Regions from separate parts of the Homo sapiens genome. Here region 1 is linked to region 2. The links come from fine-mapping of genetic effects on gene expression. Tissue or cell type: whole blood. Region 2 holds a variant in brackets; the other region holds the start of a gene. All regions are shown on one strand. Distances are between the middles of the regions.

The links. PIP is the estimated chance that this variant, and not a neighbour inherited with it, causes the effect.
Region 1: it holds the start of TGM3, and the variant in region 2 is fine-mapped to the expression of TGM3 in whole blood (TOPMed, PIP above 0.99).

The regions. Positions count from the first base shown.
Region 1 is chr20:2,290,788-2,300,060 of GRCh38, reverse strand. It overlaps TGM3 (transglutaminase 3), which reads right to left and starts at 4,060. Exons shown (of 13, transcript NM_003245.4): 1 at 3,991-4,060. The coding sequence starts at 3,997. LOC105372503 (a long non-coding RNA gene) reads left to right here. Exons shown (of 3, transcript XR_937203.3): 2 at 2,771-2,869; 3 at 3,567-4,240. RefSeq lists enhancers at 2,290-2,822, 2,823-3,356.
Region 2 is chr20:2,331,566-2,339,565 of GRCh38, reverse strand. TGM3 (transglutaminase 3) reads right to left here. Exons shown (of 13, transcript NM_003245.4): 10 at 7,256-7,564; 11 at 4,293-4,450. Among named protein-coding and RNA genes, the nearest start is that of TGM3, 40 kb to the right of the region's middle. The variant G/A (reference allele first, on the strand shown) is at 4,283.

The DNA.
Region 1 (9,273 bases), 40 kb after region 2:
ATCTCAGCTCACTGCAACCCCTGCCTCCTGGGTTCAAGCAGTTCTCTTGCCTCACTGTAACCTCAGCCTCCCAAGTAGCTGGGACTACAAGTGCGTGCCAGCATGTCCCACTAATTTTTGTATTTTTAGTAGATGAGATTTTGTCGTATTGGCCAGGCTGGTCTCGAACTCCTGACCTCAGATAATCTACCCGCCTTGACCTCCCAATGTGCTGGGATTACAGGCGTGAGCCATTGCACCCGGCCAGCATTTTCTTTAAAGCTTTCCTGGTGATTCTAATGTGCAGCAGGGACTGAGACCTCACTACCTTAGGCCCGTTTATCATCTACACTTATAAAAGCTCCTTCACATAAATTACCTGACCAGAGCCACCCGGCAGCTATAGGAAGGAGGCAGGGGAGGAGTCGCTGTCCTCTTTTTACAAATAAGGAAAATCAGGCTGAGGGAGGGGAAGGCTGACTCCTTCTGACTCCCATCTCTCAGCTCCTACCAAGATCCTAGGGCCTTGTGCCCTCCACTGCTAAGCGAGATTTCCTAACTTCAGCACACACCCCAGCCTGGCACGTGGGCCCTGGGGAGGAGAATGATTGCTCCATCTGCAGAGACAGCCCTGCGGGGTGGAGCCGCATGAAGTTACTTGAGGTGAACAAGGGGAGTGCTCAGGCATGAGGACTTTGGACTTGGGAATGGATGAAGCGGGAGTGGGGAGGACTTGTGCTGAGGCGCTTAATGGAGAGGGTCCCCTGGGAATCGCCCCTGATTAGAAAATGTAATTCCTCTCATAGGGTTTTTCTTAAGTCCCCCCAAGACAAGGAGAAAACAGGCTCATGAAAAAATTTCCAGGTAATCGTAAGCACCCATGAGGTGGATACTGCAATAACCCCATTTTGGAGATGAGGAAACTGAGACACACAAGTTAAGTGACCTGCCCAAGACCACTCTTCTCGTAAGGGGCAGAGTGGAGCCTTGATCCAGAGAGCACCTCTGAACCTGCACTCTTAACCCATCAGCTATCCTGTAAGGAATCCTACAGGAACAAACGCTGAAATACGGGCAGCTGTCATTCCCGGTGGAATGAAGCTGCTCATGGGCTGTCTCTAAGGAACAGGGAGTAGCCGCTGTCCCAGGTGGAAGAAGGCCATGGAGCCGGGCAGACAGGAGGCAGCTGGTCCTCATTTCAAACAATGAGCAGCTGGAGTCACAAGACTCTGAGCCCAGAGGGGCCATCTCCTTTTCAGAGAGAGAGAGAGTAGATATTGCCTTGGTCCCAGTGCCAGACACAAAAATATGAGGAGGGTCCAGGAAGCACCTAGAAGATTTACAGAAGAGAAGGAGGCCAGAACCCAAGAGCAATTCCTGACCGCTTCCATGGGAGGAGGGGCGACTGGTGTCCCAGCTCCAAGGAGAACGGTTTGGTGGTAGACCCAGACGCTGGGAATGGTACAGGTCCTTTGGGGGTGGAGGAAATGAGGCCTTGAGATGGGAAGTCCCTGAAGCCAAGGCCAGTGCTCTGCCTGGAAAAGTAGTTGGCAAGAAAGCTCACTGCCCCAGAGGGACAGAGCCATTAGTCCCCAAAACAGAGGTTCTGGTCATTTGCAGGCAGAAGCCTGTGGTTCAGGTGTGTACCCTGAGAACTCTGCCACTAACCCAGGGCTTCCAAGTGGCTTTGGGGATGGGGAATCTTGCCTCCCCTCCACACTGGGGCCCTCCTCTGTGCTCACAAACTGCTCTCCCACCCACTCTGGGGATGCCAGGCCACTTGGTGCGGATCACTGCCAGGCCTTCCTCCACTACCTTCATTTCCAGCCACAGCCCAGGCTGCCTTCTCCACCAAGGGGTGGAATAATGGAACCCCTTCTGATTGCAACAAGAACCTTAAATTAGGAGCTGGACACAGAGTCCTCTCAAAGCAGCACACCTGTCATCCCGATAGTCCCCTGGGTCACACCTGCTCACACTGACATTTATTTTCCTGTTCCCTCTGCCCTGCAAAACCTCTCCAGACCAAGTCCAACTCATTGTCTGTGACCATTTTTCAGAGTCTTCCCTATCCCAAATTCCAGACAAGACTAATCTCCTTCTCTTGTTGGTCCCCGTAGCACTTGTTTTGTATTTGTCATGCAGCTTAATAACAGTCTGCCTTGCATGCTGCTCACCTAAAAAACCGGTGGTACCAAAAAATATCAGACTAAAAGCTACCGAGGACAGAACCACATCTCATTCACCTCCATATTTCCCACTGCACCTGGCACAGCTCTTCTCCCTTAGGTGTTCAGTGAATAAATTCATTCATCCAAGAAACACTGATTGGGAACTTCCTGGCTGAGTGACTCGGAGCTGAGCTGGGAACTGCAAGTGGGACAAATTTAAGGGACTGAATGTATTCGCCTGTCTCTCCACCACCTTTTCAAAATTGATTTTCTCCCCACCAGCCTCATTCTGTTGTGACTTTAGAACATCTCTGGTTGTTAACAGAGACATTTAATCATGCCTCACAGCGGGCAGGCCATTCCTGAGAGTCCACGGGAGGTCCTGCACAGGGATGGGAGGTGCACATTCCTGGGGGCTGGGCACGTGCCTGTCCACTCCCTGGCTCTGGTTTCTTTTTGTGGAGAAAGAAAAGTCGGTACTGGAAGGAACCTCAAAACGCATTCATTTCAAAGCTTTCATCTTGAAAACTTGAGGCTCAGGGGTGGCAGAGAACACACAAGCAGTTGGTCACAAAGCTCAAATGAGAAGCCAGGTTCAGAATTGCTTTTTTATGTTCCAGATGTTATGTGCACTTATGTAGGAGCTCAGCTCTGGCAGCAGGACATGGTGGAAAGGGCACTGCTGAGACCTAGCTGGCTCTGCGATGGATTCACTGTGTGTAAGGTTCCACCCCTTCCTGGGCCTCAGCCACCTCCTGGAGGGAGGGAGATGGGCTAGATGACATCTGACCTCCCCTCTTGCTGCAGTGTGTAGGGTCCAGAGCTCCTCTTCTTAGCATCCCAGCCATGCTGTACATTACAGCAAGGAATGGGAGACAGGGGAGGGGGCCTAATGTGCAATCACCTGTCCCAGTTTTTGTGGCTTCTGAAGTAGCCAGCATTTGCCTGTTGCATTTGGCTCAGTGATGTCTTTGGCCAATCTTCCAGCAGCCCTAATCGCCATTCACAATATTTTACAAGTTTGACTCATATCTTGTTTGGATTTGGCGTCCCTGTCAACCTACTAGGCTGAGCACACAAGACAGATAATAATTAGCATGCTGCTTAGCAGGGGTGCTGATTAACAAAGGCCCATATCCTCGACAGTAAGCATAGAGTGGGGGAACCTGCACTTCCTGTTGTTCTTTGTAACCCCTGTTCCCTGGTGCTCTCCTGTGGACCAGGACATCTTGTGGCACACCTGCTCCTGCTACGGGGAGGCTTCAGCTCATCAAGTCACTTACACAGAGCCTGTCTGATGCTTCTGATGTGTAGCTTACTTAGGAGCATTCCTAATGCTCCTAAGTAAGTTGATTTGAAATAAACAATGGTTTCTTTCAAATCAACTTACATGTTACCACTCTCACTCCCTGGTAGTTCTGAGATGTGCTTCTTTGCTGACACTGCTGACAGCTGGATACAGCTACACTGAGAAACACGAGACCCGAGTCCTGTCTGCTTTGGCTTTACGGGTGGCGACGGATGTGTAAAAGAAACGCAAACACAAACAAGGCAAAGCTTGTCCTCTGCCTAAGGAGATGCGATGTCCAGCTGCACTGAACACCCTGCCCATTATTCAGAGCTACATTCCAATGATGTTCTACCCCAAGAATATGCTAGAGGGACCCAACCACCACTGAGAAAGAGCCGCCTCTGGCTAGCACCCTAAAATAGGAAGTCTGGCCTTCAGAGCCCCCAAGGCAGGCAGCTGTCCTGGCCGGACACTCTGGCTTGGCAGGCTGGCCCAGGGGAAGCACAGGCTTCTGGCAAGGACCTGATGGAGAAGATGCCATGCACTCACCAGCCATGTTTCGCCTTCCTCTGCCTCTTCTCAGGCTCCTCTGGGAATGGCACGGACAGTGCTGACAGACAGGCTGCCAAGGATTGCCTTACCATTTATAGAATCCTCTCCTACACACCCCAATTAGAATTCTAATGAAGTGGGCGAGGCACCAGGTCATTCCTGTAGTGCCTGTAAACGTTTCACTTACGACAGACTTGTCACCCAATGGACGTGCATCATGTTTGTACAAGACCAGCTTGGGGAGAAGGGGGCAGATAATAAAGAAACTCAAATAGTTCGCTTTTATAATTTTATAAAATGATGGACTATTTCCTGGATTGTAGGGTTTAGGAAATGATGACATGCTTTTCTTGCTGATCCTGGGAAGTTCTCTCTGAATCAAAGAAACGTCTCAGCAGAACCCAGAAGAAGAAAATTGTGAGGTCCTTTCTCATGATACACATGTATTAGCATCTTCCACTTGCACAGGGAAGTGAGACACATCACAGTTCATTTGTTTAGGGTTGTAGTGTGGCATAAACCATCATTTGATTTGGAATTAGAAGCCGTTGGTTCTGATGCTGGCCGAGCCCTGGGTGGTCTCCAACCCTTGAAGCCCGGAAGCCTTGCTTGTGGTTGGGGATAATCACTCCCACCCCTCTCAACTCACAAAGCTGTGGACACGATCACATGAGATGGTGCGCATGGGAAGTGTATGCATATCTACCAGGGCAGGTTAAACTGAGATCACACTTGGCGTTGAATGTCAGTTTCAGTCCAGATTTGGGGGAAAATTGTTGTTTTTAATGAGGCAGCAGGAACAGCCTCTAACCTTATGCTTCTGCCATGTCTTTCTCAGACTGCAGGTTCCGTCACTGACCCTCACTGGGCCCACCTTGACATCAGTTTAAAGAAAGGGTGTGGAGTGGGGAGAAGCTCTGACATTCTACGTGTTTTTGTTTGCTTGCTTGTTTCTAAGGGCGTATGTTTTTTCAAAGTTCCTATTATCGATATTTACAAATATCAAGGTTTACGATGGACAAAGGAGTGAGTATATATTTTTTAAAGTGAGGCTTCAAGGATTCACGAGAGAACAGAAATGCCCCAAGGCTTTCCCCAGCATCACAGTGTGGAAGGAAGATTGAGCACCATGATGACAAGGTTGGGTCTTTAGAGAGAAGTGAGAATGTTTGATCTCGAGAAAGAGAAGACGGAATAGGCAGGTGGCTTGGAAAATTGAAAAAGAGAAATCAGTGTCCTTTCTCCGTCCTTTAGGCCCCTACAGCCTTTTGTACATCTTAGAACCTCTATTACCGTATGTATCCACTGCACTGGAACTATCTGTTTATATATGTCCCCATCTCCAGACTGAGCTCCTTGAAGGTACAGGTTGCATATCATTCAAATCTTCTTCTCAGAATCTAGCACAGGGCTTGACACGTGGCTGGAACATGCACATTCTTGAATAAGTGAATCAATATCACTGTAAAGATGGGAATCATAACTACCGATTTAGTGCTTACTAATAATAACTAATTGATTTAGTGTTTACTGTGGGCAGGCACTGGCTAAACACTTTACATATATTAGCTTTTCTCATCTTCATAGCAACCCTATGCAAAGGGGCTATTATTATTTCCATCTTATGGGGGACAGAGAGATTAACCTGAGTCTCCAACCACGAGATTCATACCCATATGTAAATGGCTCCAGAGCCTGTGTTTGCTTAACCTTGGAGGTCAGCGCCTAAATGAGGCAGCCTTTCCCAGGCCTCTGGGGCTCTAAGACAGCTGGCTGTGCACCCATGCCAGGCAGAATGGGATGCACTGTTGGCTCTGGCAGATGACTAAGAAAAGAGCAGAGGGTAGAGAGGGACATGGAAAGAGCCTGGACCCAAGAGGAGACTCATGTGTGGTCTTGGCTCCTACCACGGGCACTAGCTGTGACTCTGGGCGAGGCCTCATGACGCCAAGTTCATCCTGCCAGAAAGCTGGAGGACAGCTCCATGAATGGCATGGGATGAATGGGTGTGAAAGTGCTCTGTATGCTTCTGTGTGTGGTCTAAAGGAAAGGAGGGGTTTTGCTTATTATTGTGGTTGTTGCTGTTGGCCTGGGAGCCAAGGAAAATCAGACCCCGGGCACTCCTTTCAATGACCTGACAAGGAAAGCTGCAGAGGTGACAGGGAGGTGGTGCTCCCCTTAAAAGGGAACCTGAAGACACACAGTCTTGGCTCTGCCAAGTCTCCTCACCTCTCGTAGGCTTTGTTTCCTCAACTGTAAAACTGAGTGGAATTGCTCTGAGAATCAAAGGAGACAGCAAGTGTAAAAGGTTCAGCACGGCGCTGGGCACAGCCCAGTGTAAAAAGTTAGTATTAATAATATTATATTATTAGCCTGGCCGGGTGCGGTGGCTCGCTTCTGTAATCCCAGCACTTTGGGAGGCCGAGGTGGGACCTTGAGGTCAGGAGTTTGAGACCAGCCTGGGGAACATGGTAAAACCCTGTCTGTACTAAAAATACAAAAATTAGCCAGGCATGATGGTGCGTGCCTATAATCCTAGCTACTCGGGAGTCTGAGGCACGAGAATCACTTGAATCCGGGAGGTGGAGGTTGCAGTGAGCCGAAATCGCACCACTGCACTCCAGCCTGGGTGGCAGAGTGAGACCTTGTCTCAAAAAAAAAAAAAAAATCATATTATTAGCCTGAAAGGCCCCGAGTGCCACAGGTTTTGCAAGGGGTCCCACGGGTTTGGACAGTGGTGTCCGACCACTGACCACCTGGTCTTCTCTAGGAGGGTCTGTAGCTGGTCTTGATCCCAGAGTAATGTAGTAAAAAGACCCCTGAGTTGGAGTCAAAAGACCTGGATTCAAAGCCAGGCTTTGGAACTTGTCCACTGTGTGATGTTGGCTGAATTCTTTTACTTCTTTGGCCCTCGGTATCCTCATCAGCATGATGCACACACCTTCCAGGGCTGTCATGAGGCTGAAAGCCATGGTGACATTGCGGGTATGATGCTCCTCTGTAGACAGGCTAGTGTTACACAGCCAGCTTCCCTTCTACCCTCCACAGCTCCTCCAGCCAAGCTGCCTGTAGTCTTTGCAACTGACCAGCAGTAGGGCCCCAGTAAGAGTCTGCCCTGAGTTACTTAATGTTGGGTACTGGAGGATTGCACCATGGCCGCAGCCACAGCCCCAGCCTGCAGGCAGACTGTAATTTGCAGCTGTGTCACAATTTCAGCTAAATGATTTTCAATTCATAGGTGGAGCCACCCAGCTACACACAGGATGAAATTCCTGCTTGGCCACACTCTGCGCCTCAGACCGCAGTGAAGACGAAGCATGCAGATATGGGCTTTTAAAAGAAGCCAATTGATCACTTGCCTTTTCTCTCCCTCTAATTAAGGGATTTAGGGTTGCTGAAGATTTCACAACATGTGTAGAGACAGAGAATCTTCTGAGAAATCATCCAGCCCTTTCCAGCACGACACATGTCTCTTGACAACTCCTAAGATGGGGGATTTTTTTTTTTTTTTGAGATGGGAGTTTCACTCTTCTTGACCAGGCTGGAGTGCAATGGCACAGTCTCAGCTCACTGCAACCTTCGCCTCCTGGGTTCAAGCGATTCTTCTGCCTCAGCCTCCCATCTAGCTGAGATTATATGCACCTGCCACCACGCCTGGCTAATTTTTGTATTTTTAGTAGAGATGGGGTTTCACCATGTTGGCCAGGCTGGTCTCAAACTCCTGACCTCAGGTGATCCACCCGCCTTGGCCTCCCAAAGTGCTGGGATTACAGATGTAAGCCACTGTGCCTGGATGGATTTTACACTTCTCAAAGCAGCCAATACTTGTACTTGAGAAGCTCTGGCTATAACATTAATTTCTAGGATGGTTCTGTTTAAGGCCTATCTTCCCCCCATTTCATATGAGCTCCAGGAGGGCAGGGATTTTGTCTGTACCAGTCACTGTTCCCTCCCAGTGTTTTGCAGGTGGGCTCTCACAAAACTCAGGTTTGGCCAGGTGCAGGGGCTCACCCCTGTCATCCCAACACTTTGGGAGGCTGAGGTGAGAGCATCATTTGAGGCCAGGAATTCGAGACTAGCCTGGGCACCATAGTAAGACCTCATCTTTACAAAAAACAAACACATAAATGAATAAAAAAACTTGGGTTAAAGTGCACTAAAAGGACCAGAAAAGTCTTCCTTATTTGAACTGAACATTTATTTCCCTAGAGCTTTCACCCACTGACCTTCACTGCTCCCCTAGACACTCACAGAGACCACATAAAACAAAGCTGTCTTTTCCTTGGTCCAACAATGATTGTGTTCTCCCCCAAGTCTGGCAAATACTCTTTCCCTCCCAAAAGTTTTCACTTTTCTAGGTCAAACGTTCAGTTTCTTCAGCCATTCCTGGTGAGTCAAGTTTTGGAAGCCACCATGTTGTCCTCAACTATCTGTTGCCCTGTGGATTGTGCCATGTCCTTCCTCTGGGAAGGGAGCTTCAGTGGCTCCTCATGGCCTAATAGAGCCCCAATTCCTTAGTTTGGGTGTTGAGACCTTTCAGAATATGTTCAATCTTAATTCCATTATTTTATATTACTTTTTTTTTTTTTTGAGACAGTGTCTCGCTCTGTCGCCCACGCTGGAGTGCAGTGGCGTGATCTTGGCTCACTGCAAGCTCCGCCTCCCAGGTTCAAGAGATTCTCCTGCCTCAGCCTCCCGATTAGCTGAGATTACAGGTGCCCACCACCATGCCCGGCTAATTTTTGTATTTTTAGTAGAGACAGGGTTTCACCATGTTGCTCAGGCTTGTCTCGAACTCCTGACCTCAGGTGATCCACCTGCCTCAGCCTCCCAAAGTGCTGGGATTACAGGCAGAAGCCATCACACCCAGCCATTTTCTACTACTCTTACATGAACTCCCCTGCTCAGTGATACATGTCTAATTCTTTCTCCTGGAGCCCAACATGATGCTCCCTCACTGTACACCTGTTTGTAAAGTGTTCCTGCCTGGGACAGCCACCCTATTCCTTATGTATGCAGGTCTCATTGTCACCAAGTCCCAAAGCAAAGCTCCATTCCTCTTGAGCATCCCAGTGTGTTGTTGTGGAAAGAGGAGTTGTAGCAAAACAAGCAAACCCAGGTTTAAGTCTCAGGGACACAGTCTAGCTGTATGAACCACCTCACTGGGCCAGTCACTCAACCTTTCTGAGCCTAAGTTTTCTCCTCTGAAAAATGGGCATGATGATACCTGTCCTGCCCACCCTGTAGAGTGTCGTGTGGAATCATGAGATGACACAGGTA
Region 2 (8,000 bases):
GACTCCAGTTCAGACCCTGCTTCCCAGGACAGCCCAACCCCACTGTGGGCTCTGTGAGGGTCAGGACATTTTTCATGCTGAATTTATTTTTTGCAAGGACAGGGTCTTGCTGTGTTGCCCAGGCTGGCCTCGAACTCCTGGCCTCAAGTGATCTTCCTGCCTTGGCCTCCCAAAGCACTGGGATTACAGATGTAAGTCACTGTGCCCAGCCACTTGCTGGGTTTAATATTACTTTCCTTGGCTTTCCTGCTTATGGGTCCTGTTTCTTCCCTTAAAGCTTGAACCTCCGTCTCTGGGAGGCCCCACAGGTGTTGAAAAGGGCAGCCCCAGGCCCCACAGCTGCTCACACCCTGGCTCACACTGTAGCTCCCTTAACTCTTTTTCCAGGGGTTGGGTCCCCCCAGCTCAACCCAGGCTACTCTCCTCTGCTGACACCCCAGTCTACCAATGTCCTTCTAAACTTCTAGAGCCCAGAGGTTCCCTGTGCACCATTTATAGTCTGAGCGGAGCTCTAATACCACACGGTCCTTGCTCAGTGATCAGAACAGATGAAGGCTGGGTTTGGGGTCAGAAAAGCAATTTGGACTATTTATTCAGACCAAAAGATGAAAGCTGTTGTGTTTCTGCCAAGAAACAGCCGTAATTCATTCTGGGCAGACAAGTCATCTCTTTGCGCCTCAACTTCCTCATCTGGTAAAGAAGGACAATCATCTCTTCCCTCCCAGAAGGGGTCAAATGAGATCAAGGATGGGGAAGAAAGCATTTTGGACATAGAAATGGACATTTTATGGCTATTGGATTTCTTCTTCTTTTGAGGATGACCGGAGGTTGCTGGGTTTTGTTGTTGCTGTGTTTTGTTTTTCTTGTCACTAATCCTCAGAGCAACCATTTTACAGTGACAGAGCTGAGGTTCAGGCTGATTCAATAACCTGGAACATTCACACACAAGGAAACAGCAGAGCCCAGCTGGATCTAAAGCCTTTGCTGTTTCTGATAGGTCTGCAATACCTCCCAGTAATTTGTGAGTAATTGAAGCATTTTACACATCATGGTCTATATTTTCATTTCTTCCATGAAACTCATTTAAGTGTATGACATAATTTGAAGAGTGCAGCATAATTTTATGCTATTGGGTTATAAGAAAGCTATACAGATGTTGCCACATTTTTCATGGTGATATTTAATTTGAGATTTCCATGCTTTTTTTTCTTTTTTTAATGCCGCTTACCACTCTCTCCTATTGACCCAACTCTGTAAATGTACCCAGAGGAAAGGATAAAAGCCACTAAAAACCTGAGTTTGCTTGTCACAGATGATGGATCAATTGGGAGGACATCACCCTTTGGAAACAATGTTCAGATTGTTTTTGGCCTGGTTTTGTGGTCTAAGGTCCTCAGTGCTAATTGCCAGTCAGTACCAGGTTAGATAATGGGGTTTTACCCAAATTATTATCTTTTCATACAGATCACCTTCTCCAGTTTAAAAATCGGTGCCCTGCTCTGAGTGAGCTAGGCATTGATCCGTTCAATAGAGACAAGAATGTCTCGATTAGGTGAAGGCTTAGGTGGAGGAAAGAACTTGCCTCGAAGAAGGAAGATCAGGAGTCATTTAAAAAGATTAAATTTTTAAAAAGAGTCAGTGATGGCACATTTCTAGCCTTATATATTCTGATTTCCTTTCTAAAGATATTGTAGTATCTTAAAGATAAGTAGACTTGCCATGGAAATCTGGAAGATGTATAGCAAAAGTGTTGAATAAAAGATAATGCTGGAAGAAGGTTTGAGGACATTGGATAAGGGAACATAATGGGGAATACACTGGGGAAAAACACTAATTTTTTTTTTTTTTGACGGAGTCTCACTCTGTCAGCCAGGCTGGAGTGCAGTGGTGTGATCTCGGCTCACTGCAACCGCTGCCTCTCGGGTTCAAGCAATTCTCCTGCCTCAGCCTCCCAAGTAGCTGGGATTATAGGTGCCCGCCACCATGCCTGGCTAATTTTTTCTATTTTTAGTAGAGACGGGGTTTCACCATGTTGGCCAGGCTGGTCTTGAACTCCTGACCTCAGGTGCTCCACCTGCCTCGGCTTCCCAAAGTGCTGGGATTGCAAGAGTGAGCCACCGCGCCTGGCCAAAAACTAAGTTCTTTTAAACACTGATCACTTTAGTACAGAATGTTCTCATAACTGAACTGGCAGCCACCCAGTATCATTTTCTAGCCTCAGGAGTTGGAATGGGCACTCTGCTGTCCACCATGTCTAGAGAGATGGGGAGTGTTTCTCAGAAATGTCTTGTGAAGCAGGAGAGGCTGTCACACGCAGGGCACAAGCCTGGACTGACTTTCCTGTGCAGGGAAGAATGCAAGTCCAGAGCCAAGGGGATCTGTTCCAGTCATGCCCCGAGCAAGGGGCTATTTCTCTTTTACAAATAGTGGCTATCCACTAAGACATTGTGCTAAGGGAGACAGTGATGAACTCAGAACAGAGGTAATGCCTGCCCTCATGGAGTTTACGGTTGGGTAGGGATTCACAACCAAATAATTGCACAAAGAAGGATAATATTCCAGCTGGGACAAATGCCTTGAAGGAAAAGGACAGAATGTTCTGAGGGTGTATAATTGAGATGAATTTGGGAGCCTAATTTGGGAGCTCAGGAAAGGCTTCCCTGAGGAAATGACACTCTGCAAGGGAAGTAATTTATTGTCCCAGTGACAGAGTTGGAGCAACTGAGACTCAGATTAAGGGACCTGCTCAGTGTCACCACTGATCAATGGAGGGGTTTAGATACAATGCCAGATCCATTTGGTTACATGGCCCAAGGCCTGAACGACTGCCCTTCTCAGCCCCCAGACTGGCTGCCCAGTCACTGACTCTCTAGCCCCTAAGGTAGGGGACCAACTCCCCCATCCTGAAGCACAGTCCAAACTAACCAGGACAGTAAAAGGGTGCAATTGCAGGCCAGCTATGTGGGAGAACCAGGCCCGGCATCAGAGCCAGCATCCTAGATCCCCCTGCCCTTTCTGAGGTCAGGAACGCCTGCAGCCAGCTTACAGCTTAAGGAGGGGCGGGCCAGGGCAGCCATGATTATCTGGCTCTTCCTGGTTTCTGGGGCTTGGGAAACCTGTGGCATTGTGATTGTACAGGGAAAGGCAATTTCTATCTAGACAACTGGGGCAGACGGTGGGTACAGCAGATGAGAGAGGGCAGGGCCTGGCCCATGAGGCTCTTGATTGGGCCCCAAGGGAAAACCTCATGTTCTCTGTCCGTTTGTCTGCCTGTCCTTGTCCAGCCTTTTACCCTTCAGACCTATACTCCCTGGTTCCAGCACCCTTCACCCTGGGCTGTGGGGATCAGGCACAGGGGCTACAGGGTGAGGGACAGGCTTGGAGTCCGCACAGGTGCTCCTACCAGTGCTGAGGAAGACACAGAGTGGCACGAGGGGCCTCCCACAGACCTGCAAGCCCCACCTTCCTGGGCTCCTGAGAAGGAGCCTGGGAGTGAATGCTGCAAAGTAAAGGAAGCCCTATGAGCAGAGAAAGAGGGGTCTTTGTTCTCAGCCACTTTGAAGATGCTGTTGCTGGCTGGTGATGTACCAGGACGCCTTGGAGGGGCATGGGCTGGGAGTCCCAGGTTCTGAGGCCTAGCCTTGACTCTGGCGGTGGCCAGCTGTTCCCTTCTCTCTGGGCCTTGGTTTACTTGTGTGAAATGAGAGTACAGGAGCATGTGACTAGGCTCCTAAGAGTCCACAATTCTGTAACTCCAGGGTCTAGACAGGGGAGAGATGCTGTGGGTCAGGCCTATTTCTGATCTGTCCATGACAGAGGGCTGGGCTGTGGCCCTGGCACATCAGCTGGCTGTGTGTGAGACCTACACCTGTGCCTGTCTGTGATTCTCAAGCCTGGCATGGCCCAGAACACAGCAGATCTCAAGCCTGGCATGGCCCAGAACACAGCAAATGCTCAGTAGCTGAGTGAGAAGGGAATGAGCTGAAAAGAGTCCCCCAGGCCCCTCCTCAGCTGATGCCCCCAGTGGTTCTGAACTAGAATCTGAGAAGCAGCCAGGCAAATGCACGCGTTTATCTCACCAGACAGGGAGCAGGAACACGGGCCTGAGTGGGAGCTCTTGGCTATTTGGCAGAGGCTGGACCGAAGCTGGGCCCAGTTCTCTGCCCCTCCCAGCAAGAAAAAACTCTCCTTTGCCCTCTGGGAGAGCTGTGGCTCACAGGGACAGTGGGGCTCCTGGGAGCTGGGCTGGCTGGGGGCAGAACCCCTTCCCACAGGATGGGGA[G/A]CCCCATTACCTCCAGGGTCAAGGTGGGGTTGTCCAGGATGATGTCCCGCTCCACCACCACCTCAGACTCATCTGGGACCTTGCACACCGCTGTGATCCGGATCATGTTGTCTGACTTCAGGTACTTCTCATACTGAGCGTACGAGATCTTTATGGGATGTTCTGCCTCTGGAAGGAGAAGCCAGGGGATCCGAGTGAGGGGGAGTGGGGATGGCTTCTGAACCTTCCTCAGAACAGATGCCAAGCCAAGGCAGGGTGAGCTGGTGGGAGGATCTGCAGCCCCGGGCTTGACTGAGCCCTCCTTGGGCCAGGTCCTGTGGGAAGCGTCCCCCGGTCAGGGTGGGCTCCAGAGCAGGGGGCAAAGAGGCCCCAGGACTCTCTCTGGCTGGGCAGATTCCCAGGAGGATGGGCTCACAGGGGCTAAAGATACCGCTGCTTCCTCCCGACTCCGAAAAATGTTGGAGGGCAAGTGTCCTTTTTTTTTAAAATTTTTTAAATTATTTGTAGAGATGGGGTCTCTCTATGTTGTCCAGGCTGGTCTCAAACTCCTGGACTCAAGGGATCCTCCCGCCTTGGCCTCCCAAAGTGTTGGGATTACAGGCGTGAGCACTGCTCCCAGCCACAAGTGTCCTTCTGAGGGGCAGTGGAAGAATACAAATGCCACCTGATTGCCAACAACAGTAGCAATCATGACAGTAACACAATAATAGGTAGGAAGGGAAGCCAGGGTATTGGCTAAACAAACGCTTAGGATCCTCCCCGTCATCTAATAGCCTGGGGTTCTACTGCCACAGCATCCCCTTCATTCCTCTGGTCTGGTCTCTAGTTCTTCTAAATCATCCACACACCAGCCAGACAAAGCTTTGGAAAGCTGTTTTTCGTTTTGTTCTGTTTTGTTTTCTAAATCACTCTTCTTCTGTGTCACATGTGACTTCAAAAATCTTCCGTGGCTCCTCATTGCCTTAGATAAAGTTCAGACCCCTCAACCTGGCCCTGCATCACCTGTCCCTTAAAAGAACCTTCCACACTTCTTGTTCTGCAGACAAAACAGGCACCTTTTCGCCCCCATATTTTGACTCACATGGTTCCCCCAGATGGAAATGCCTCCCCTGGCTTCTCTCCATGCATCCGGCTCCTTCCCCACGCTTTAAGTCCTCTCTTCTGACCCTGTGGGCCGCGGGGCCCTTTCCCTACCCTGATGGGCTTAGGTGCTCCCTTCCCTCAGGCTGTCATGCTGGGTGGCCTGGGGATGCCCCAGCACCCACAGTATTACATACTCTTGTAGGTAAGACTGTGAGGAGGAAGCTGCCTCTGCTTTTAGCACTGAAGGAATTTGCCATCCCTGCCCCAAATGTGGAGAGGACAGGCCCTTGCATCAGCTGGTCCAACCCTCACCGTCAGTGACCTCCGAGGTTCAGAAAGGGAGGGAGACTTAACCAGGGTCATCTAGCAACTACTTGGCAGACGACCAGACTCTAAGACCACTACACCTGCCTTCTCTCTCTTTTCCATTCCATTCTGCAAAACGGTTTTTTTTTAACTATTTCCATCCTGTGAATTTTTTTTGATTTCCAAAATTAGCTCTTTTGGCCAGGCATGGTGGCTTATGCCTGTAATCCCAGCACTTTGGGAAGCCAAGGCGGGAAAATTGCTTGAGGCCAGGAGTTTGAGACTAGCCTGGGCAACATAGTGAGACCCTATCTCTACAAAAAACTTTAAAAGTTAGCTGGGCATAATGGCATGCCTGTAGTCCTAGTTACTTGGGACTACAGCTACTTGGGGGGCTGAGGCAGGAGGATTGCTTGAGCCCAGAGTTTGAGGCTGCAGTGAGCTATGATCACTTCAGCCTGGCAGACAGAGCAAGATCCTGTCTAAAAACAAAACAAATAAACAAAAACAAACAAACAAACAAAAAAAGCCCTTTCTTTGAGTTTCTAAGGTCAATAACAGCCAGGCAGTTGCTTCATATATTGAAAAGATTTCTGCTAAAATTCTGCCAGAAGACAGATTGCTAGGGGATGCTTCTTTCTGACAGGTGTGACACCTCTCAGTTTCTCTGGAGACAGAATTCTTTCAAGATGGGCAGTATAATTAATCAGTTTCTATTAGTTCCTTATGTGAAGCAAATAACCACCCTGCCCTGTTAATCCGGCTTGTAAGTCCAAACTTTTCATGACAGCTTGAAGGATTTTACCAATGTGGGCACACCTGCATTCTAATCCTTCCACAGCACAACCTTTATCTGCTCCACCTTGTTCCCTTCCCATCCCTGCTACCCAAGGGCAAGGAGTCACTGTTCCTCCCAAACGCTCAGACTTCTAAGAAAACCTGTCACTGTTGTCAGGATTCCAGAAGGTCCACCCACCCCGTGGCAGCTGTGGGAGGGCCATGGGCCAAGGTTTAGGGTCCCGTGGTCATTGCCACCCTCCTGAGGTCAAATTTGAAAAGCGATTTGTTGTGGGAGTGGGGGTGAGGTGGGTAAGAACAATACAACATAGAAAACAGGGGGTGGCTCTGGACTCAGTATCAGGAAACCTAGGACCAAGACTCAGCACTACCACTACTATCTATGATACTTTATCTCCGAAGCAAGTCACAAATCTCTCCCAGCCTCACTTTCTGCTTCTATAAGATGGACACTGAAAATCTGCCTTTTTTTAGACGGTCAAACTGTGTGAGGTGGTATATACTTGTAAGGGATATTGTGCCATAGCTATGAACTGCCAAAGCCTCCCTCCTTCCTCCCTTGGGGCGTAAAAGGATTTTGGTTGGCACCACCCTGACATTTGGTTGGCATCACTCTGTTCATAGAGACAGAAACTTCCAAAGCATTAATACATGGCTTAACCACAGGGGCCGCTGGCTGCTCCATTCGTAGCTGACTAACCTGGAGCCCAGCAGACACCCTGCAGCCCCAGAAGGCCATTGGCTACCTCGGATTCGTGGATCTCCTCCAACTGCGGGATGCGTTACCTTCCTCAGGGTCCAGGGACATTGTGGCAGAGTCCTTCCACACTTCATGTACAAGCGTGCCGTTGTAGATGATGGTCCAGGCTGTCATGTTCACTGTCACTGTCTTCGTATCCCTGCTCAGGTTTTTGAGCAGTAGGACCAGGTTGACTTCTTTGCCTACTGCCAGCATGCCAGCGACCTTCAGCTTCCCGATGATGCTGGGCTCCTGTTCCTCTGTTTCCAAACCCATTGAAGACGTCGCGGCAAATGGCGTGTTGGGTTTAAGTTTCCCCAAAGCCTTTTGGAACACTTGTCTTTCCTGGTCAGAGCCTGTGTGGTGGGAAAAGACAGAAACATGCCAGGGATGTGATGGCAACCTGGGCAAAGGACAGTACCCTGCCTGGACAGGCGGCCTAGGACTGGTGCTGGCTCCATTGCTGCCCTAGCAGGCATTCGACTTTCACAGGTCTCCAGCTCGCCTGTCTTAACCGGAGACTCACAGACCAGTTGGTCTCTGGCGCTTTTCTAATCAGCTCTAAATTTCCCAAAATCTGTAGAAAAGCTTTATCACACCTGCACACAATTACTATGTGGCTTGATCATTTGCTTGCGTTAATTAGGTTAGATTCCATTTTTTTCTGATAAAATGTCTTTTGTGAGACTTAAAAAACAGATAATTTCAAAATAAATCATAAGAACTGAGCTGAAAAAGATTAGAATACATTCATAAGCCAAAAAGCAAGGTGATGATTTAGAACTGACTTAA